Regions from separate parts of the Homo sapiens genome. Here regions 2 and 3 are each linked to region 1. Evidence: fine-mapped expression QTL. A gene starts in region 1. Each other region holds a variant in brackets. All regions are shown on one strand. Distances are between the middles of the regions.

Region 1 (8,188 bases):
AGCAAGTACAGAGAGGATGAATGTTAGAGATAAGCAGATGATATGGCATTGTGGTTCTATGGAAAGGTAAGTGGGCTAGGAAGTCGGGGTATAACAGTCTGGATTGACTGGGAGTAGAGTACAGTGAACAAGTGCTTAAATGATACCATTTACCTGTATTCTACTCAAACACTCACTCACCAGATCCCCTGAAGGAGGAGAGCTCATCTCTTATACCACCCAGTAGAACGTCCCTCCCAAGTCATGCACCTGCAATGAAGCCAAGGCATTTTGTCTTGGGCCAGGTGTGAGCCTGGTTTGTCAGAGGATCCCAGAGGTGCCACAGAGAGACAGTTTTCATTCAGTGTTCAGGGAAGTGTGTGGGTGAACCCACCAGATGCTGAAAGGAGAACTGGAGCCATTCTTTTTTTGAAGCAACTATTAAGTCATAATTTAACTGAAGCAGAGAAGAGATTATCAGGCAAGCCTTGAAAGAAATCTTGCCACACTAAAAATAAGTAAGCACAGGAAACATAAATTTTAAATGAATATGTTAAATGATTATTAATATGAGGAAGACTTCTCTGAGCTGCATTCATAGGCAGTGGCTACAGGGTGCTGGCAATAGCTTGCGGGGATAATAGGGAAGAATGTTCCTACAATTAGTCATTAGTTAGCACTTTCTCTGTGCTAACACTGTGCTAGGCATAGGGAATGTAAGCATGAATGAGACATGGTTCTTGCCTTCAAAGGGCTTTCAGACTCTGGAAGGAAAACCATCTAAAAAGATGTTTATCATTGGATGTTCTAAGTGTTATGCTACAGGGATGTCAGGGAGCACAGCAGTGAGGTGCTAAACAAGCAAGGGAGGAGAGATGAGGGTTAGAGAGAAACAGGCTTTCTAGGGAAGGTGCCCCAAACCAAGGCTGGGAAAAGAATGGAAGTTAGCCGACTAAATAAAGGAGCAGCCTATGAAAAGACCCAGACAGCAACAATAGGACATCAGAAAGTTCAAGCAGTTCTGTGTATCTAGAGAAGACATGCCAGGAAGAATGTAGCAAGGAGAGAGACAACAGAGATAGTCAAATTATGAAGGAGCTTGTATGTCAAGCTACGTGACATAGATCTGACACTGAGGGCAGTGAGAAATCTTGGCTTTCTAGGGGGCAATTTAATGGATGAAGAGATCTATCTGTGTTAGAAGTAATCTGCCTAGAGTGGGGAAGTTAAGGCTGAGCAGAAGACAAGAACACCCAGAGAAACTGTAAAATGTCAGAAGGGGTGAAAGCTGAGGGTAGAAACCTGACGAACAGCAATATTTAGAGTGGATATGCAAGAGAAGCCAAAGAATGAGACTGAGAAGAAGAAATTCGAGAGGTAAAGAAAAAGAAATCAGGTGGCTTCATGGGAAACAGGGAGGAGGGAGCTTTAAAAAGGTAATGGACACTACATTAATTGATGCTGGAGACTAGAAAGAAAATGGATAGAGCAACAAAGAAATCGTAAAGTTGGAAACAATTTAAATTACCATCAACAGAAAAACAGACACATTACTGTATGTTTCTACATGGAACTCCCATATAACAACAGGGAAAATAAATGAATATCTCTATATGTCAACACGGATGGACCTAGTAAAGGTAACGATAAGTAAAGTAGGAAAAGAAAATATAGAATGTTATATACTGCTTACTTACATATGTAGCAGAAATATAAAGACATACATTGCAACGATGAATACCAAGTTCAGAAGAGCAGTTATCTCAGAGTCAGAGAGTAGTCGTGATTGGGAAGGTGGTTACACAAAGCTCTTCAACAGGAATGGTAATGTTTCATTTATTAAGCTGGTTTATGAATATACAAGCGTTTACTATATTAAGATTTGAGCATGTCGCACATAAAAATAATTGGTGACCATATCTCCGGAATTTTAGAGACGCCTGCATATGTGTGTTGGAAGTAAGTTGGAGTATCCGGAATGCAGTGGGTGGAACAGGAATGCAATAAACACAATGTCTAAGGCTCTACCGGAGGACTATCATTGCTCTAGCAATTGCATACCAATAGAAGGAGAGGTCAATTATCTGGATTCTTCCACTTAGCTTCCACTTAACTTCCCCGTTCCTCAGTTTCCCCTTTTGTAAAGTAGAATATAATAGTATATTCCTTGAGATGTTAGGAGAATGAAATGATTTCATACTTAAACATTGCTTAAAATAATCCCGAGGACATTATTTCAAATAAGTACTAGTTACAAGGGAGTTAGCCAACATCATCGTCAGTACAAAACAAACTGATTCACAGCAAACACAATAAAGTCCTGAATTCATGAAACACTCTTCAATTTGCCAGGAACCGTGTGAGATATGCAGAAACTACAGAAATTAAGGCTTATTTGTAGATATTAACACAGACATAAAAGATTTAATGACCGCAGTTCACGTTCAATCAGCCGTTCCCACATCCCTTGAGTGCAGTCTCTGTGCTGGCTGGACACTGCAAGCACAGACACATTCCTCAGATGTTTAGACTTTTTTTAAAAGTGCGTTGTTACATCCACATTTCACTTTTTATTTTCTTTCTTTTTTTGAGACGGAGTTTCGCTCTTGTCGCCCAGGCTGGAGTGCAATGGCAAGATCTCGGCTCACTGCAGCCTCCGCCTCCCGGGTTCTAGCGATTTTCCTTCCTCAGCTGGGATTACAGGCGAGTAGCTGGGATTACAGGCGCCCGCCACCATGCCCGGCTAATGTTTGTATTTTTAATTGAGACGGGGTTTCGCCATGTTGGCCAGGCTGGTCTCGAACTCCTGACCCCAGGTGATCCGCTCGCCCCCGCCTCACACAGTGCTGGGATTACAGGCGTGGGCCACCGCGCCCGACCACACATTTCACTTTTATTCGGATCGATCAGTAAACTCTTTCGCAAACCCTCAAACTCTCCCGACCACTATCTCAGGTAGCAGCGAACTCACCCGTCCTCAGGAGGCGGGACCTGCGTGCCGACGCACAGCGAGCACGTTGACGTCTTGGCGCACCGTTCCACGGCACCGCCCACCGGCTTGAATCCCGGCGCCTCAGAGGACTATGAGGCGGGCGCCAACTGCTTGGGCCGCAGGGCGGGAGGCAGCGCGGGAGTGGGGCGTTGAGGGGCCGGCCTAGCTTGGGGCTCTGGCCTTGCGTCTTCCGACCGAATCACCGCTCCTGAGCCCGGTGCGGGGCTGCCGCTATCGCCTGGCCGTGGGTGCCGGAGCGGCCGGGTTGCGACTCAGCGTTCTTGGGTGGGCGCGGGCGGCGTCTCCGCGGCGGGCATCCCCCGAGGCCGCCCTCGGGCCATGATCGACTCCGTGAAGCTGCGCCGCGACAGCGCGGCGGACTTCTTCTCCCACTACGAGTACCTGTGCGCGCTGCAGAACTCGGTGCCGCTGCCCGCCGTGCGCGCCTGTCTCCGGGAGGGCGTGCTGGATTTCAACGCCGACCGCCTCCGCGGGGTGGACTGGGCGCCTCTGCTGAGCACCCTCAAGATCAATAAAGACCTGCCCTTGGTCTCCATCAAGAGCTTCTTCCAGCCCTGGCTGGGGGACACAGGTTTGTAGTTCCCGCCTCCAGGGCCCCTCAGTCGGTGCGGCGAAGTGGGTTTTTAGGTGAGTGGTGTCCATTGTCGGGGTATGTGTGCAATAGAAGGGGTGTGCGGCCTGGACACTCACGAGCTAGGTGAGTGGCTTAAGGTCTCTAGGGCTTCAGTGTGCTCATCCGTAACATGGGCTTAATAACGAGACCCAGGTTATGTGCGCCTTCGCAAGGATTCCCTGCGCTGCTGATGCCTGCAGAGCTCTTAGCACAGTTTGGGACATCATTAAACATTTGACAGATGTTACCTATTTTATTGAATGACTTTGATTTGCCTGATAGAGAACTAAGCAGGTAGGAAATTAATACATGTCAGCCTTTGTCTTTTTTTTTTTTTTTTTTTTTTTTTTTTTGAGACACTGTTTCACTCTGTCGCCCAGGCTGGAATGCAGTGGCAAGATCTCGGCTCACTGCAACCTCCGCCTCCCGGGTTCAAGTGATTCTCCTGCCTCAACCTCCCGAGTAGCTGGGATTACAGGCGCGCGCCACCATGCCCGGCTAATTTTTGTATTTTTAGTAGAGATGGGGTTTCACCATGTTAGCCAGGCTGGTCTCGAACTCCTGACCTCAGGTGATCCGCCCGCTTCGGCCTTCCAAAGTGCTGGGATTACAGGCATGAGCCACCGCGCCCGGCCTGTCTTCATTTTTTAAGGTGTATATAAGAAGTTTGTAAAGTGCTTTACAAATACAAGCCATTTGTAAATGTATAGTGGTATAATTAGGGATCCAGACTCTCTGATTATTCGGAAAATATGTTAGGTCAACTATGATATATGACAAAATGCTGTTATTCCTTTGAGCACTTAGCATTTTCTACATAATGGAGGCAGCTTCCTATAGACGCTAGCTAGGTAACAGGAAGGAACAGTTTGTGCAAAAGTTTTGGAAATAGGAGAGAGTATGCAAGCTGAGTTACAGGACTGGAATTTAGGTTTGAGAAAGAGCAGAGAGAGTTGAGGCTGGAAACCTTGTGGGGGCCAAACAGGGAGGGTCCTCGTTTGTCCTGTCATAGAGTTGGATGTTTATCCTGAAGGTTTTGGGAAACCGCTGTAGGATGATGAGATGGAATTTCCGTAGGAGCTCAGTCTAGCCTCCATATGGAAGACAAATTAAAATTGGAAGGATGGTGAATTGTAATCTAATGGCCCAAACTAAGGTATAGAAAAGAAGGGCTGGGGCCGGGCACCGTGGCTTATGCCTGTAATCCCAGCACTTTGGGAGGCCAAGGCGGGGGGGTGTGGATCACCTGAGGTCAGGAGTTCGAGACCAGGCTCACCAACATGGTGAAACCCCATCTGTACTAAAAATACAAAAAAAAAAAAAAAAAAAATTAGCCGGGCGTGGTGGCGGGCACCTGTAATCCCAGCTACTTGGGAGGCTGAGGCACGAGAGTTGCTTGAACCCAGAAGGTGGAGGTCGCAGTGAGCTGAGATTGCACCGTTGCACTCCAGCCTGGGCAACAAGAGCAAAACTCTGTCTCAAAAAAAAAAAAAAAGAAGGGTAGGATTTCAGATATCTAAGAGAATGGATGGGCGTGGTGACTAGTTAGAAGAGGGGGGCAGCAAGTATGGGTGACAGTTTACAGCAGCGTCTGTAAGTGAAACACAGCAGCGTCTTTCCATGACACAGCCGAGTTAACTCGAATGAGATTGGGGGTGGGAGGAGGATCTCAGTTTGTCTTTAATGTTTTAAGAGGGGCCTGTGGGGCATCCAAATGTGTCTGCTAGGCAGATCTGGGCCCAAGATTTAGGCTTTGTGGGAGGACAGGTATTTGAAGGCATGGGAGGGACCTAGATTACCCACAAAGAAGATCCAGATAATTGTAGGTCTGAAAGGTGTTTTTTAAGTGGATATGGACGTGAACATGTTTATAAGCTGAGAGAAAGAGGGAGGGTGTGCGATCTGGGAGAGGAAATGATTATTGATGTATTTAAAAACAACCTGACCACTTGTCGTGTGCCCGGCCCTTTTCTAGGCTCTGGGGTTAGCACCATCTCTTCTGCAAGGACAGTTCAACACATCTGCTTCTGAAAATAAGTCAGATTATTCTCTACATCTCATTCAGGTGCAGGAACTGTTCTGTACCTCTGAATGGACTTTAGTTAACCAAAATAATATCAGGAACCAGGCCAGGTGCGGTGGCTCACACTGGTAATCCTAACACTTTGGGAGGCCAGGAGTTTGTGACTGGCCTGGGCAACATAGTGAGACTCCTGTCTCTACAAAAAGTAAAAAATATTAGCTGGGCTTGGTGGATCTCTTGAGCCCGGGAGGTTGAGGCTGCAGTGAGCCATGATTTTGCCACTGTACTCCAGCCTGGGTGACAGAGCAAGACCCTGTCCATGACCCTCCCCCTACAAAAAATAAAAAAACCAGGAACCAAAATAAATTAAAGATGGGAGGGACCTCAGAGTCAAGGCTAGCCTACTAGATCTTGCCTAATATTTTGCACTGAATGTAAGAAAAATGTATTACAGACCATTCTCGTCAGATATTCTTCACTGAACCTTCTTTATCTCTTGCATCTAGTGGGTCTAGGTTGTAGATTTTAACCTCCTACATATTGCTTGTCCATCCTTAATTACATTTTGCCTGGACTATTGCAGACGCTCCTAGCTAGTTTTGCTGCCGTTGAGCTTGGTTTTTCTCAGTTCATCTGCCTACTTTGGTTCAAGTGATCTTTCAAAAAGGAAAAGACATGCTTAAAGTGGCATGCCCACGCAGGACCAGTGTGTATTGGTTGCTTGTGTTCTGCACAGAGGCACTGAAATCTCAGCTGTGTTCTGTTAAGCCTCCTGGGGTTAGTTGGTCTTGAGGAAGGGGAGCTTTTTCTCATTTCCTTTATCTCTTTGATACTCCAACAGTGAGGCACATTTTTCTAACCTGCTAGGGGTATCCTTAATGTGTCAGTGGTAGCCCTGATCCTCATCACCTGTGAGGTAAAAGTGAACTCTCCTAGGCTTGCTTCTCCCTGCCTCTTTGTAAATTTCTGACTCTTCCGGCTACGGCTCTGGGCTTTAGTCGGATCCACCTGCAGTTTTCCAGTGCCCGGCAGGTGTCAGGCTTAGATGCCTTTGCTCTCGCTGCTCCCTCTGGTTAATGCATCACCCACTCTCACCCCATGTTGTCATTCTCATCTTTCTAGATTCAGCTTCAGGATTATCTTGAAGCCATCCTTTCAGTGCAACTTCTTTGCTTCCATAAGAACCTCTATGTACATAGTTTGGTATATCCCATGTGGCTTGAGTTTACATGTGTCTGTGCTTAAGAGGACTTTAAAGGACATGGCTCATTTCTATGTCTTAGCACAGAGCAGATGTTTTTGAATGATACATTGTATGATTGAAGTCACTAACTTTCTTTTATCTTTGTTTTAGGTTCTGACATGAATAAATTTTGCAGAAGTCGTGTTCCTGCGATAAGATACAAAGATGTGACCTTCCAGTTGTGTAAAGCTCTTAAAGGCTGTTTAAGTATATCAAGTGTGCTAAAGAACCTGGAGCTAAATGGACTAATTCTGAGAGAGAGGGATTTAACTATTCTAGCAAAGGTAAGCTTTGTCTCATTTGGCTTGTAGACATTTGATAGTTGCTTTTAGAGGAAAAAAAACCTCAATAACATTTTTAACTTTTCCCCCTCATTAAAGGGATTGAATAAATCGGCTTCTTTGGTGCACCTGTCTCTTGCAAATTGTCCAATTGGAGATGGAGGTTTAGAAAGTGAGTTTAAATCTCATTTAACTCTTGTCCTATCAGGCTGGTTTCATGTTTCCCTACATGCCATGTTAATTCCTGTCTGTACCTTTTTTCTTACTACTGCCTCATATGCTTGTTCAAACCTTGGTCCAGTCTCAAGTCTACCATGAAAGCTTGGCATGCTGAATGTAATCTGAACTAACTTTACTTAAGTTTGTGTTAAACCACAGACCACACAAATATATACCATCTGGTATTCTCTGTTTTTTGTGTTTGTTCATCTTTTAGAGTTTTTCTTCAAGAAATATTTATGGGAAGGAAATAGCAAAATGTAAAGAGGCCGGGCGTGGTGGCTCACGCCTGTGATCCCAGCAATTTGGGAGGCCGACGTGGGCGGATCATGAGGTCAGGAGATTGAGACTGTCCTGGCTAACATGGTGAAACCCCATCTCTACTAAAAAAATACAAAAAAACTCACCAGGCATGGTGGCGGGTGCCTATAGTCCCAGCCACTCAGGAGGCTGAGGCAGGAGAATGGTGTGAACCTGGGAGGCAGAGGTTGCAGTGAGCCAAGATCACACCACTGCACTCTAGCCTGGGCGATAGAGCAAGACTCCGTCTCAAAAAAAAAAAAATCATCATTACTTTAAATAATTAAAACATATATACAATCAATTTTAATGCACTGTGGTATGTTCCAAAATAGGAAATATAAGCAAAGTGCTGTATAGGAGCATATAAAAGGCTGACAGACTTGGGGGGAAAGGGTTGGGATCATGGAAATAGTCACAGAAGGTGACTGTTCGTTGGGATCCTGAAGTCTTGTGTTCGTTGTGTGAAATAGTGGTCTGGAGGGGTAAGGAAACCTGCATTTCAATTTGAGGGAGC
Region 2 (8,188 bases), 26 kb before region 1:
CTCAAAAATGAGGCAATACATCATGATGAATGTGTATGGTGGTGCATTTGATGTTGCATATGGTGGAAATACAGTTTTCTCCATTAGATGGGGAGGTGTTAAAATGTACAAAAATAAACATATTTCACTTTTTTTTGAATATTAACTTTCACTAGTGCTAATATAAATTTCATTTTCTCTTCTATCTGGTAGAACAAAGCTCTAAGATGCCATTCTCGCTTATGTACTTCTGAGAAAATCATTCAGGAGCAGGGTTGCAGCACATTACCCAAGAAAAACAGCCCTGAGAATGTTTATGATTAGGCCGCTTGTAATAGGTAATTTCTATCTCTATTCTTGACATTTATTCCTAGAATATCAACCTGGGGGTGGTGATACATCACCCTACTCTTGATTTTGGAACTTTTAATATGAGATATTTTAAAAACCACATCTCCATCTGTGATCTGGGGATAAGAGAATAAGCTAATAAGCATTGTGCCTGAGTTACAATTTCTAATACTGTGAAAAGAAGAGGCCACATCAATGGGAAAAGGAAAACAGTCTCGTGGGAGCAACTCTGAGCCTCGTTAATGTACCTTATCATTGGTTCCAAAATAGAACCAGCGGGAATCGTACCAGCCCACTATCTGGAAGCAAATAATTAATCACTGGGAAAGGTAATTAAAATGTGGCAACAAATGAGCATAGTAAGCCATAATATCAGATAAAAAGTATACTGGAAACACAGGAAATAAAGTATAGAATTAAAAAAAAGAAGCTATAACAATGTAAAATTTCCTAGTTATCTCTGCTAGTTTTCTCCTCCCAATTCCACAATCACCTCTAAATTAAAAATGAAAATGACATGCATCACTTATCAAAATAATATGAAACAAAAGCCTGTTCATGTTTGTAAACACATTATAAAAACCTAGGATTATACCAGTAACATTGAAATACAGTTGACAAAATATTAAAATAATATGTAACATGTACTGCTTTATTAATAAATAACAAGATCTAGCAGCTGGGCTAACTACCATAATTTTGTTGTAAATTATAATACAAGCTATCTGCAAAACCAGTATGTGATGTGAGCATGTGAGCCTTCATTCTGAGTCTCCTGACACGTTTTCTCACCATCAATCTGAGGGCTAACACATCTGTTTCTGATATGTGGACTCCTGAGAAGAGAAAGCATTGAGAAGGGTCCTGACCATTTCTGTCCTCCCCTCCAAGGTCTCTGAAACTATGATGGAGCAAGTCATTTTGATTATGAAGTTGTTTATGGGTGCAACCAATCATAAAAGTTCCTTGAGACTTCTCATAAAATAAGCCCCAAGACTCTTCCAATTCCTTTCTCACAGTTCAGTGCAACCTAAAAGTTGCCACTAGATTTAAAAAACCCTTGTAACTATGACTTGTGATTACTAGAGAGTCAGACTGCCACAGTGATTTCACTCGCTGTAAATCCTCCCACATGGAAAGCTAACTAGTCTCTGATGCCAGCCTTGAGAGAGTTGGGGATTGGCGAAGCAGTGAGGCTATCCTCATGGTGATAAGGAAACCAACTTATCCCCATCCATCATTATCCTTCATCATGAGTGGCCAGATGTAGATGTCCATCCAGTATGAACTAGTAATTAGAAGACTTGTTCCCTCTCATGCTGACACACACTTATGATTACAGTTGATTCTCAGTGGGTTCTACGATCCATTCTGCATGGTCTAATTAACCAAGAATACAGTAAAAGCATGGAGAACAAGTCAATGGCAGGCGCCTAGAGCAGTAGCTCTCAAACTGCCGCATGTCGCAATCACCTAAGGAGCTTTTGAAAAACACTGAGTCTAGAACATGCCCCCATACCAAATAAATCTGAATATTTGGGGCGGGACCCAGGGATCAGTACATTATTATTACAATTATGAAAAAAAGGAAGACAATTAAGTAAAACGACTATCTCATTACCTCTTTGGGTGGTAGGACCACGCATTACTTTTTTCCACTTTCTAATTTTCTTTGCAATTTGGGCTTTTTGTGATAAATGTGTATGGCTTTTATTATACGTAAGTCATCAATCAACTTTTGCTTTAACAAACACATTGTATTTAATTTTTTGAGGGTGTAAGCAAAATAGTAACCATATCAACCAGTTTTCTCAGTACTTTTATGCCTCTGTGGATGAGCCCAAGAAGCTCATGGAAGAAGTGGAAAAGCTGATCCATACCTTCAAAGATTTAGTAATGACGACATCAATGAGAAATCAAATGAGGATCTGGTTTCCATAGGGCCACCAATGAATAATATCTCAAGAGTAAATGAATATTGCGGGTGGCTAGTAAATGGCAGTTGCAATGATATCACCTGCAAATCCTTCAGGTTTATACCTGATATGAAATTATGATTATGTGACAAGAGCAAATCTTTCTTTTTTTTAATTTTATTATTATTATACTTTAAGTTTTAGGGTACATGTGCACAACGTGCAGGTTTGTTACATATGTATACATGTGCCATGTTGGTGTGCTGCACCCATTAACTCGTCATTTAGCATTAGGTATATCTCCTAATGCTATCTGTCCCTCCTCCCCCTACCCCACAACAGTCCCCGGTGTGTGATGTTCCCCTTCCTGGGTCCATGTGTTCTCATTGTTCAATTCCCACCTATGAGTGAGAACAAGAGCAAATCTTTCTTATGCAATTGGCTGTTCCTTGAAGATTTTGACTGAGGAATCAAGATACAATATATATTGCACTTCAAAGTGAGTTGCTAAAACAAAATACAAATTTTCAAAATAAGTATCTGAACACCAATGACAGAACTCATCCCTCACACACATTAAAAATACAAAGAGGATGAAGTACATGGAGGTTGAAGGTGAAACTGGGAGGAGGATTTTGGAGATAGATGTTGGAGTGCTAGATACCTCAACAAGGGTGAGGAATAGAAGATGTTTCCCACTTAACGGTTTTAAGGAGCCCACATAGAGAATTCAAGATGTGCTACATTCAGTTTAAGGCAGCAGTGTCCAATCTTTTGGCTTCCCTGGACCAAAAGAAAGAATTGAAAGACAATTGAAAGAATTGTCTTGGGCCATACATAAAAATATACTAACAGCAGCTGATTAGCTTTAAAAAAAATTTGCAAGCAAATGTCATAATGTTTTAAAAAGTTTATGAATTTGTGTTGAGCTGCATTCAAAGCTATCCTGGGCTGCATGCAGCCCATGGGCCACAGGTTGGACAAGCTTGATTTAGGGGACTATACTTGTGTCTGATTCCCACTAAGAAATGTAAACACAGTGAGATAGAAGTATTTAGAAGCTGATCTAGGAGAGGTGGCTGTGGCCAAAGAAAGTGTATTTCCTGAGGAAGAGGTTTGTACCACTCTTGAGAGGCAGGCAGTCTGGGAGCATCAAGAATCTTTCTGAGGGCTATCTGAAGACTAAGAGAACATCAGAAGAAGGAAGCTAGCTGTGGGTCACTGGATGGTGAGAAGTCGCAAGAGGAGCTGCCAGTGACCAGCTAGAAGAGACATCATTTCCCACATCAAAGAAACGGAAAGAGAAGCATCCCCCAACAATGGCAGCTTTCATGATAACCCACAAAAAATGCACATAAGAGAAAAAAACAGCTTCACGCTCCAGCAAGCAGAAGCCATCCACTGACAACATCAATCAAATAAGAACTTTCTCGCCCTTTTCACTTCCTTTCCCACCTTGCAGTTCCAGCCTGAGGAAGCCAAGACAG[A/C]CTTTTACAGGTGGCCTAATCATAGCCTTGATGGGCAGATGGAGGGAAAGTGCTATGGGTAGGATGGAGAAGTCGACCTTGTCCTGAAACAGTACCACAGTGGGAAAGGCAGGATGATTGACCTTTGAACGAAGATTAAAATTTTGATCATCGCGTGGGACTATAGGAGTTTTCAATCAGGAGAGAGGAAGAACGAAACAGTTAAAGGGGCACTGGGAAATAAGAAATTGTTTTACAGTTATATCACATGAGTTGTCTTTATTCCACATAGTGGCTACACAAAAGAGGGCTTTTCAAATGCCCGTATCCTTTGACTCAGTCATTTCACTGCAGAGAAAGTGTCCTGCTGTAGCTTTGTAGTCGAAAGCAGCTTTTTTGCTTGTTTGTTTATTTGTTTTCAGGATAGATGTTCATCTTTGCTCTTGGAATGTTACTCTGAGGTTTTCTTGGTTAGGCAAATCTAAAGAAGGAATGAAGACTCCATTGTCTGGTAATTAAGATATACTAAGACTTCCATCTCCAAAGGAAAATGGAGCAATACTCTCCCCATGCCAGCCTACCTTTATGAATTAAAGAGGTCCATGAGGCTAGGTTGAGAGCCAGTAGGAGGCTAGCCAATAGAGTCATTGAAATAAATTAACCATGGTACTTCTGGAGAAGTGGTTATCCCTATAAACCCAAAGCGCTAAAGCCTGGGACTCCGGCCTATTCCAGCCCATGAGAGTATAATACAGTGGGGTTGCCTTCTCTTGCAAGAGTGCCGAGGTTACGGAAGGGCTCTGGTCCAGCCCAACAGGGAGCTCCAGCAGCTTCAGAGACACCTTCCCTGTGTAGCAGTTTTTACCTTCATGAGGCCCAGACTTTCAGGTGGGAGAAATTTAATGGAGGGCCTTGGGACTTCTACCTTAGTGACTCAACCAAGTCCCAGTGCCATCTTACCCGGCACTTATTTCAGCTCCAAGGGACAGTAATACCACAGCCTTACTGTGGTTCCATCCCCCGACCTGGGGCCAGGGTGCCTTAGATGCTTTACAGGTGGCAGGATGAGCACCTTAAAGGGACTTCAGAGGGGTATCATGGGTGCCTTATCTCTGAACACAACCTATGCCTTCTAATGCACTTTCTCAGCACTACAGCTGCTCCATGAGTGTGGGACTTCACTGCAACTTCTACACCTCCCACCCAAAGCTAGTGTGTAGTGGGCAATGGCCCTGCCACAGGGTCAGCACACCAAGGCCCTCAGAGTCCCACGCTGGGACTCCTTCTTCTCAAGGCATCTGCAAGACTAGTTCTCACAGAGATAAGGTGACAACCTCTGCTTAATAACCATCTTTAAGTGTATGAGCCTGCTATTTTATTTTAACTTCAGTATTACTTCCCTGCCTTACACAGGTGTAAAATTTCAATCCCCTGGCTACCCTTTTATGGCTTGATGGGCATTTAAGATGACCTCTCTGTGGTTCAGTTTGGCCCAGAATTGTTTACTTGCATCTTTGATGAAGAGGAATTTTGTTTACAGCCTCTAGGCTTCATTCAGGCAGACCCTATTTCCAAACAATCCTTTTACAGAGGTAACTGGGAGGCACTAAAGAAAAAGCATGTCACTTAAGTAGGGAACTCATACTGTTGCAGGGGATTATGGATTATTTCTTGTGGAAAGTAAAAAAAAAAAAAAAAAAAAAAAAAAAAAAAATGCTCTCCTTGTGCTGAGAAGTGTTGGGAAGGACAAAGAGTAGGCCAAGTGGGAGGGCTCAAAATGAGCCTGTTCTCATCTCACTTCTGTGGAAGAGCCAAGCTTTTCAGTAAACCACATGAGATTACTAAGGCTAGTGCTTAACTTGGGGTTCATGAGGTTTGTAGGCTCTAGCCAATTCTGAATTTCAGTTCTTTCACTGAAGTTGTGTGAAAGTATTGAGTTTATATGAGTGTTTTCTGGGAAAAGACTTGATTCTCAAGGAGATTCATGATCTCACAGCTTCAGACTCTTGCTATTTGAAAGTGTGATCTGAGAATTATCTGTACGGAAAACACCGTATTTTTTAAAATGTAGGTACCAGGCCCACTCATTCAGAACTTTTTTTGATAAATAACAAATAATTTTTTTAGTATCAGTAGTTGCAAATTATTGCAAGGATCATACTTATACTAAAAAGTGTATTCATTGTTTATCTGCAATTCAAATTTAACTAGCTGTCCTGTATTTTGATTTACTAAATCTGGTAACCCTAACTGATAATGGGATGGAAGAAACTCCTTTTTTTAAAAAGAACCTCAATGCAAGGGCTGTTTTTTCATAAATAAAATTAATACTATACCACTGATCATTGGACAAGTGAGATTATATCACTTGTTCACTAAGGCCTGGAATATACTTCTAGTCCCAGCCTAGAGAGGATTTTTACAGTCATTGGAAGCAACCATGTGCTTTATATCATAGAGTTTTGCAATGTACAGTGACCAGGGGAATAAGTTTTCGTTTGTGCACTCCAACCTTGGAATTTCTGACATTACTGATGTCTCTTTGTGGTCTTAAACCAAGAAGTCTGGTTAAAAAGTTGCTAAGGATGGGTCAAGAAGGCAGCGTTTTCCTTTCTGTTTTAGAGCAGACGCTAATAACCACCCTTTTGGTAAAGGAACATTGCCACCTAGTAACAGAATCAAGTATTTTCCTCTGGGCTCCAGACAAAGGATTGACTCCAACTGCACATTTTCAAGTGCACACGTTTGTGAATTTGGGTTTTGGTTGCCTTCCACTTAGCATTCAGCATTTGTAAGCTTTCCACAGAATGCAGGGAGAAAAAGCCATTTGTCAGTAGAGCCTCAGTTTGTAAGAGGCAAGTGGGAAGGCTTTTAAAAAGGCCAGCAATATCAGTAAGAATGGATTCTCCTTAGTATATACTGGCAAATAGGAGAATAAAACAAGCAAAACTGAGTGGATTTTGTGGAAAGAAACTTCTTTCTGCCAAAAACTGTGTGGATGGAATTGCTATTTATGTTGCAATTTGTAAAATGACTGAGTTTTTGATGCATGCACAAAGCTGAAAAAAATTACTAGTAAATAGTACATAGAATCTCATGTATAAAAATAACCTTACTCAGAAGCATTAAATTTGGCCCCCACTTGAGATCTGAGGATCAACTAAGTGCTCCCTAAGTCCAGCTAATTCTGCAGTCTTAAAACCCATACCATGGATTCATGGTCTCACGGTCTCACGTGTGTTTCTAATATAAGGGATAAATCTTGCCATCACAAAAAAGAAACTATTTAGTTAGAAATTCCCAAGTGTTAGAAGTAGGGCTTTTTTTTTTGTCTTCTTTTGCTTAGTAAGGGGGCTATCACTATTCAAAAAAATTCAACTTACAAATTTAATAGTCACTCTTGGCTTAATGCCACCTGTTTTAATAAATAGGCCCTTGTGAGCTGTGGCAACAAGGATTGTGTTGCTGTTATAAATATTTACTGTCCCTTACTTGATGCTGAAAAATCCAGAGTCCAGAGTAGCGTAGTCTTACAGTTGGTTACTAAGTATGGAAGTGTTTTGCAAGTTTATACAACCTCCATCAATGAGGTTATTTTACATATTAAGAGAAAAAAAAATTTGAACATTTTAACTTTCAATTAAAACAGTCACCTATTACTTCTTGAACACTTAAAATAAGCCAGACCTTGAGCTACAAGCTTACATAAATGAGATGGGTATCATAATGCCCATTTTACGGATGTAGTTTGGAGAATTTGAGGAATTTGGCTCAGATCACACAACTAGTAAGTGTCAGAGTTACACTTCTGTGCCACTGGTTGGTCCTCCAGAGGCCCGGAGAGCTACCTTACCAGCAAAAGAAGTAGTTAAATTCTTTCAGTACTTAGCTACATCTTTTCTTAAGCCAGGCTGAAGCTGGTAACACCTATGTATCTAGCCAAACTGCTTCATACTATGTCCAGAGAGAAGGATGGTTGAACTCAAAAGAAACCCATAGCAAGATCACCAGGTCGTGATCGCATGACAAAAGGTGACCCTACCACAGGAGATTCCAAATGTCTCAGGTAGGTCTGTGGACATTGGGTAATGTTCCGGGAATTGAATGTTACATAACAAACCACTCTAAAATTTAGTGGATTAAAAAAGCAACTACATATATTTTGCTCACGAATCTGCATTTTTGGGCAGGGGTGAGTGGGGGTGGTTCCTCCCTGCTCTACTGAGCTTCAGCTAGCACAGCTCAAAGGCTGGGGTTGGAATCATCTGAAGGCCCGTTCCCTTAAATGTCTAGCTGTGGGCTGGGGCCTTCGCTGGGGCTGTCAGTTGGATCTTTTATATGTGGCCTCTTTATATGTTCTAGGCTTCCCCACAAAATAGTAGCTGGGTTCCAATGGTGATTATCTATTGGGAGAAAGATTCAGGCAGAAGAGGGATTTTCTTTTATGACCTAACCTTAGAAATCTCACCCCTGGAA
Region 3 (8,188 bases), 30 kb after region 1:
TATATGTGTATGCCTTCTATGGTGAGCTGTCATAAATTTATTTTGGAAAGAGTGGAAATAAATCTGTAATGTGCGAATCTGATGTTTTTGGTAATTAATTTCCCTAGCATGGTATGATATTATACAAGCAGTAGGCTATAATCCTGATATCTGAGTTCACTTCTGGCTCTGTCCCTAAACACTTGGTGAGCTCAACAGCTGGAAGAGTTTTGGGGATCATATTGGGAATTAATTATAATATTTACTTTATTACTTAATACTAGGAAAAACTGGAGGAGTGCCTAAAGCAGTTAAAGGAAGAAAGAGTGATAAGGCTTAAGGTTGATAAACGAGTCAGTGAGGTAAATAAAAGTTTTCTTACCTTTTGAGAGTTTTTTGTTTTGGTTTTGGTTTAACTTTAAGTCATACATACACACACTTTATAAACTTTAAAATGAGAAAATATAGTGTATTGCAAATGGTCACAGTATGTTAATGTTTGTATTTACTTATATTTGGTGACCGTGTGATCTGTATTCCAAAAAGCATGTTTTTTAAAAATGTAAAAATTGTAGTTTGTTTTCTTTTCCTCTGTTTTTATATGACTGGAGCTTATTTTCTGTTCATGATGCATCAATTCAAGAATGCATTTATTAGGCTTATACTGTATATACAATTGCGTAAAAGATGGGGATGAGACTATCTACTGAAGGGGAATTAGGAAAATGAATAAATAAGGTAAAAGATAATGGAAAACCGGTAAGAATGCAATGAAAGATAAAAATCTATACCATGAGGACTAAATTAGGTGAATGTGCATAAGAGCAGGGCATAAACTAGAAAGTTCTACATAACTATAATTTATTATTACAAAGCAAGTTTAAGGAGGAATTTTTGAAAGTATATGCATTGGTTTGAAAGACAGTTAATCATTCAATAAAGGTTGAGCACCTGATTGTATAAGGCAAAAGGTGCTTTGTGAACACAGTGGCCTTTCTGAGAAATACTAGAGTTAGACTTATGTGTAGTATTAGATAAATAGATTTGGTGTACAGGAGAGTACATATTTTCAAGAAGCAAAGGGGCAATATTGGTAATTGTACAGTTAGTAAATTGGGTATGATTTAGGACTTTTAAATTTATATATTAAGTATTTTACTGGCAAAAATTAGTCCTTAACAGCCAAATTGTAAAATGCTTACTCTTTATTTCATTGTCTAATTTAAGGGAAACCTTAAACAGCTAATTTTTAAATATAGAATGATCCAGGTATGTATTTAAGCTGTTAGAAATGTGATCTTTTTGAAAGATAATTAATGAAATACTATTTATATTATTTATGTAGGAGGTTTTGTCAGTTATCTCCAGGTTTTGATTGTTATTTAATATGGTCTGTCTTTACTGGTAGAGAGTTAGATTAACTGCAAATTAATTACATTTTTAAAATGTTTTATTTTAGTTTCATAAAAACTATTTTGGTGATAATGAGAGAAAATCATGTCACACATTTTCAATCTTCTTTTATAGCTGGAACATGAAAATGCCCAGTTAAGAAATATAAATTTCTCTTTGTCTGAAGCCCTTCATGCACAGTCATTGACAAATATGATCCTGGATGATGAAGGTGTTTTGGGCAGCATTGAGAATTCTTTTCAGAAGTTTCATGCTTTCTTGGATCTCCTTAAAGATGCTGGGTTAGTTACTTTCTCCCTATGACATTCGTCCCTCCATGACTTTAATGGTGTTTTGCTGAGGAACTTGAGCAATTTTTATAGCTTTCTGAAGTCATATTTACTGTGTAATTATAAGTAATACACTTGATTTTTTAAATGTGGAATTAATTTTAAAAGAAATGCAAAATGACAAACCTGCCTTGGTTGAGGGCCCAATATGAAAGAGTAAACTTATCTGGCTTGGTGGTTTGCACCTGTAATCCCAGCTACTTGGGAGGCTGAGGCAGGAGGATCACTTGAGCCCAGAAATTCAAGGTTAGCCTGAGCAACATAGCAAGAGCCCATCTCTTAAAAAAAAAAAAAAAAAAAAGAGTAACTTGTAGATAGAGTAATTGGTAGCTGTGATTCTTGTTAAAGACCAAATTGAAGGTAGTTTTAATTGAAAGTATTCAGGAATGTATAGGAATTTTTCTTTTATTCACTTTGCTTGTTAAATAAGTTTGAATTAAAATTAAGTTTGAGATATTAAAATTGTTATTAATCTGCAGGGTAGATATAGATATAGATATGGATCAGTGGTCCTCAACCAAGAATGATTTTGCTGAACGAATATACTGAAAGAAAGAGTTGGAGATAGATAATTGATAGAGTTATGTTTTGTAGGTGAACGGTTTGGTGAGGAAAGGAACAAACATATTCTTGAGGACTGGAGGAAAGGTGGTATAGATGTGTGGGGATGAAGGTGAGAGGCAGTAGGTGTGTGGTAGAAATTGCAGCTTCTACTGAGACAGTATATAAAATACGGAATAAGTAAGGAAATGAAGTCAAGAGGTATCTAATACATTGTTGGGGGAAGAGACAGTGCTTAAAGGATTGGATGATATGATATGGTTTGTCTCAGAGAATAAATGTGGGAAGGTCTGAGAAATTGGGAGGGATGGGGGTGTAGTCTGGAGTAGGATAATGGGTTTTAAGATTTTAGAAGTATTTAATGATTGTAGGTTTGGGGAAATGTAAGCTGTTCTTATGTGCTTCTAGTAATCCTTGCCTTTTCCTCCTTTTCTTCTCTCGACCAGGCTTGGGCAGCTTGCCACAATGGCTGGGATAGATCAGTCAGATTTTCAATTACTAGGTCATCCCCAGATGACTTCTACTGTTAGTAATCCACCTAAAGAAGAAAAGAAGGCGCTTGAAGATGAAAAACCAGAACCGAAGCAGAATGCCCTAGGGCAAATGCAAAATATCCAGGTAAATGAATAGAACAGAACTTAGTGATTCTACAAGTGATTAGCAAAAAAGGGAATTACTAAGTCAGAGAGAAAAGAATAATGATCTGTGCACATGCTCAGGGACCAGAAGCATCTTTGGGGTCCTTTCCAAGACTGAGATTAGTAAGTTTGTGCCCATTTCCTTATATTGTATTGTTGTAAATAAAAAATAAGAAAGTTCTTTTGAAACTTTATGATTTAAAGTAGACTATCCTCAGTGAAGAAATGAAAGATTAGAGAAATGATTTTCAATTTTCAATTTTATAAATGTCTATTCTATTCATATTCCATCTAGGTTTCTATTTGTATGCAGTCAGCTTACAATGAAGGAACACTAATGAAGGTACAAGTACTGATATAGATAATTTTTCAGAATAAGTAATTCATATATAACAGGCAGTATATTATAGGCATCATCTAGTTATGGGAATGGGAGGGGCAAACCTGTCTGCCACAGGAGTCCCCTGCTGCTTTTCCTCTGGCCTTACTTGGAGCCCCCATCTGCCATCTCAGCCAGTCTCAGACTGGTCTTGGCAACTGACGACTTGAAAACTCAGTCTACTTATAAATTGGATACTGCTTACATGTGCATAGAGGATAGGAAAGATACTAATTTTCTTATAGAATAAGGTTCTTTTTTTTTTAATGAGGGAGACATAAATTAGTAATAATTACAGAAAACACAGAAGTCTGAAAATGTGCTGGACCTACTCCTGGCTATAGCTAAGTTAAGTTGGCAATCACTTGGCAAGATATAATTAGGGCAAAAATGACCTGGAAATCTTCTAAGATCACAGAATAACATTGACGTTTTGAACTCGATTTTTAAATGGATGGCTTTGTTTGTCACTAAATTTTTGTTTTGTTTTTCCTTCTAGTTTCAGAAAATTACAGGTGATGCTAGAATTCCTTTGCCTCTCGACTCCTTTCCTGTCCCAGTTTCTACTCCAGAGGGCTTAGGAACTTCCAGCAACAACCTAGGAGTCCCAGCTACTGAGCAGCGGCAGGAGTCTTTTGAAGGATTCATTGCTAGAATGTGTTCTCCTTCACCAGATGCGACTTCTGGAACTGGAAGTCAAAGAAAAGAAGAGGAGTTGTCCAGAAATAGCAGATCTTCTTCAGAGAAAAAGACCAAAACAGGTGAATATACCAAAAAACACTCTGATAAGCAACACCCTGGAAAGGACCTGCATTCCTGATCTGACTGTCCTGAAAACCAGAAAAGCAAAGAAACTAGGGAAACTAGTTCTTTGGTTAATGAACCAATTAAAAGTAGGTCTTTGAAAAAATA[C/T]GTTTCTGTCAAGAAAGAAAATAGAATAGTGACTGTTTCATCCAAGACAAATAAAAGTAAATCCAGTCCACTAGAACATTCTGAAAGTGATACTCTTGGATGTGATTTTGAATTTCAAGAAAGCATCCATTCTCTATCACACCTTTCATATGACTAAATCTTTTGAAACTATGTTTTTACCTTTAAATTTTAATAAATTTTCTTATGTTTTTATTATGGCATATGGTGTCTTAAAATATAGGATTGGAAGCCACTAAAGGAAGATTTCTCTATACTTTTTATTATAGTGAAATTTTTGGTCTGTTTTTCCCTTTGATAGTTTACAACATTGATTCAGCAATTGTTTACTGAGGGGCTAGTATGTATAATATCATTCTGGGTGCTATGGCTTTCAGCAGTGAACAAAACAAAGCCTTTAATCTCAAGGAACTAACATTCTGTGGAGGGAGAAAACAGAACAACAAAGCAGAGTACGATGAATAGAAAGGGATGGGAGTGAATAAATGGAATAATTTTACCATTTGGTTAAATTTGGAAATAAATATATATCACATGGCCAGAAGCCATTGACATATTCTAATATATAACCAGAGCAGCAAACATGTCTAGATGCTTAAGCATGTTCATGGATTATAGCAACCCTATAAGATAGGGAACTATTAATATTATTATGTCCATTTTATAGATGAGGTGTCTAAGGAGACAGATTATGTGAATTGCCCAAAGTTGCACGGCTGTAAATAGGTGGTAGGGCTGGGATCTCAACCAGAACCCATACTTTAATGAGCTATCCTGTTTCACTGTTAAGAGAGGAACCACTTAAGGAAGATTCTGAGAAAAAAGCCAATGAACACTATAAGTAGAAAAGAGTGGGGCTATCAGAAAGCACACCTGGGTTGAATTTTTCAAAGGCAGAGTTAGTAAGAGTATGGATATAAATCTTTGGAGTAAATACCCCTCCCTGGTAAAATATGCATAGATAAGTCCTTTCCTACAACCAGACTATGACTTGAGAGATGAGATGAGAGAAAAGCTGGAGCGTCAGATTTCTTCTGGATGGTCTTGCCTGATTGTTATCAAAAGGGCTACTACAATACTACTGAGTTCATTAATCATGGATTGACTTATGGGAATGAAACAATGAACAAGATGTAATCTTGGCTTTTTAACAGTTGAGTGAAGGGGAGATACACAAGCAGATGTCGTAATACCGTATATTACATTCTATGGTGGAAATGCTGAGGGAGTTTAGTCAGTGTGGGGAAAAAGGAGGAGAGCAGTGGGGCCAAGAAAGGCCAACTAAAGAGACCAAAGGTCATGTTAATTTCTAAGCTAAGTCTTAAAAGTAATGAGTTACAGGCTGGTGAATAAGAAGGTGAAGGGGAAGGATACTCAGGGCAGAGGGAATAGCATGAGCAGAAGTACAGAGCCGTGAGTGTGAGTATGTGCGTTTGAGGAACCACAAACACAAGTAGTTGAGAGTTACCGAAATGTCATCAGGCACTAGCAGATGTCGCTCAAGGAGGCAGCTAGGGGAACAAGATCGAGTCTTATAATCCACGTTGCATGGAGCTGGTTCTTTTTCTTCAGTAAATAATGAGCTAGTAAAGAATGGAAGTTATATGCTCAGGCTTGCATTTTAGATCATTAGCTTTAGGCTGATACATTAAAGAAGTGTGGAGATCAGTTTTCCACACTTTTCTGAAGAGCATTTGTCTTTGATTTTTAAATGGGACTTATCCTCCCAATTCCTCTCCTACTGAAATAATTTTTAGACAAACATAAAGGAGACCCTCGCATAAATAGAATTAAGCAGGTTTCTTTTCTTTTTTTTTTTTTTTTTTTTGAGATGGAGTCTTGCTCTGTCGCCCAGGCTGGAGTGCAGTGGTGCGATCTCGGCTCACTGCAAGCTCCGCCTCAGCCTCCCCAGTAGCTGGGACTAGAGGTGCCCGCCACCATGCCCTGCTAATTTTTTGTATTTTTCGTAGAGACGGGGTTTCACCGTGTTAGCCAGGATGATCTTGATCTCCTGACCTCGTGATCCACCCACCTTGGCCTCCCAAAGTGCTGGGATTACAGGCGTGAGCTACCATGCCTGGCCGCAGGTTTCTTTACAGTAGTACTTCTCAAGGGTGCTAGAGGCTAATGTTCATTCTGAGTCTTCAAGACAGGCATATGGTATGCAGCCCTTCTCAAATATACTTGTTTATAGAATCCTTTTTTAATAGGAGTGCCTAACAACTGGTGCCACGAAATGCCAATTTAGTAACTTACGACTTAGCAAGAAGAGAAAGGGATCTAAAATAAGGTATAGATGAAGGGAGGGAGTAAGTTTTAATCTTATTTTGGCAATTAAATAAGATTTGGTTATGGGAAGTAAGGAAAAAAGAGGCAGTGGGTGGACTTGTGTTTCTGTGACTAAGGTTGGGTGGTGGTATCATTGAGGCTGAGAATATGGGATAAAGAACTGCTTTGGAAAGAAGAGTTTAGTTTGGAGCAGGTTGAACACATCACCTGCAGATTTCAGGAGGAAATGACTGGTAGATGATTGGATGTACATATGAAGACATGGAAATAAAGAATTTGAAAGTCATCAGCACATATAAGCAGTAGTTAAAATCATAAAGTTGATGAGAACACAGAATTGTGGGGACTGTCAAGGTTTAAGTGATAAGCAAAGAAAGGATTCTGAGAGAGACAAGTGATAAGAGTGTCAAGAAGGAAGAAGTAGAATACAGTGTCACATGGCAGAGAATAAGTGTCCACGGGATTTTGACAGTTAGGTCCCAGGTGACCTTAATGAGAGCAATTCACTGAATTGGTTGATGAAAATGCCAGATTGCAGTAAATTGAGGGGCAGGAATGCCCTGAGGGGGCAATGAAAACTAGGTATAGGACTACTCTTTGAAGGAGTTTGGATGATAAGAGGAAATGGAGTTAGCTGAAGAGGAATTTTTTAGACTAAGGACTTAAATGTTTGTAAGGTGAAAGGAAAGAACCAAGTAAAGAAGGAGAGGCTCATTTATGCAGCAGGATCTCAGACAAGCAGGGACATGAGATACTTTAATGTTCTTAAGACTAAAAGAAACAGATCTGAACAGATGGGGATGTACATATTTGAATTCTTGATGAACTTGAGATGACTCCCATACATGTAGTGCAAAATGGTTAGATAAGTAACTTAGAGAATCTGGGAAAGAAATATGGATTAGAAAATAAAATCAGGGATGGGGTCACATTGTAAAATATGTAAAAGTTATTGTAGAGTTGGGGGATCCTGGGAAGTGTGGACAGAGACAAAAATGGGAAGAGTTAGAAGTTAAATGAGTTTATACCTGATAACCCCAGTTTTCTTTAACCATGGATTTTTACAAGACCTACACACAATCACATAATTATAGTTTTAAAATTCTTCCATATTTTACATATATTTTATCAAACATTTAAAACCGTAACATTAAGAGTTATAAATGTGGATATTTTGCTGCTTAATATATACAATTTTAGCCCTGCAAGTAATTGTTAAACTTTCAATATACCTGAAATAATATCATTTAATTTTGAAATATGGTATTTTCATTTGGTTTAGAGAAAGGTACAAGTGTGTTCCTTTACTGAGAAATTACTATGCACCTTTACTGAGTACTTACCAGCACATATACAATCTGTATGCAAACAGGACCCTTTTCAGAAAACATTCAGATGTGATACTGTAGCAAAGAGCTTGTCATCCTGTCTTAAATTCACACATAATTACTAGTGGTCAAAAATCATCACTCTTGCTTGCCCATCCAGTTCTATATCCAATAATGAGTTCGTCCAATTTCAAATGGGTATTTACAGAATCTCTAATCTCAAGACAGTAACACTTGATTTTCAGAGGATCGGCATGATAGGAGATGATTGGTTTTTTGAAAAATTCTGATTATAAACTACATGCTGGAACATTAACATGGATGACTGAACACATTCTTTTA

Direction of the effects. Alleles are on the strand shown, and positions count from the first base shown. SD is a standard deviation of normalised expression in the study named. Not every link is listed here.
In carriers of allele A in region 2, the expression in memory regulatory T cells of the gene that starts at base 3,035 in region 1 tends to be higher than with C alone (moderate effect, 0.72 SD a copy in Schmiedel 2018).

The links. PIP is the estimated chance that this variant, and not a neighbour inherited with it, causes the effect.
Region 2: its variant is fine-mapped to the expression of CEP78 in memory regulatory T cells (Schmiedel 2018, PIP 0.91).
Region 3: its variant is fine-mapped to the expression of CEP78 in whole blood (TOPMed, PIP above 0.99).

What each region holds. Positions count from the first base shown.
Region 1 is chr9:78,233,041-78,241,228 of GRCh38, forward strand. It overlaps CEP78 (centrosomal protein 78), which reads left to right and starts at 3,035. Exons shown (of 17, transcript NM_001330691.3): 1 at 3,035-3,563; 2 at 6,983-7,155; 3 at 7,252-7,324. The coding sequence starts at 3,311. RefSeq lists an enhancer at 2,764-3,433 and a silencer at 3,059-3,428.
Region 2 is chr9:78,207,532-78,215,719 of GRCh38, forward strand. No RefSeq gene overlaps it. Among named protein-coding and RNA genes, the nearest start is that of CEP78, 24 kb to the right of the region's middle. RefSeq lists an enhancer at 3,466-3,785. The variant A/C (reference allele first, on the strand shown) is at 3,734.
Region 3 is chr9:78,262,644-78,270,831 of GRCh38, forward strand. It overlaps CEP78 (centrosomal protein 78), which reads left to right. Exons shown (of 17, transcript NM_001330691.3): 12 at 264-341; 13 at 1,507-1,673; 14 at 2,729-2,900; 15 at 3,216-3,263; 16 at 3,799-4,060. Among named protein-coding and RNA genes, the nearest start is that of PSAT1, 30 kb to the right of the region's middle. The variant C/T (reference allele first, on the strand shown) is at 4,212.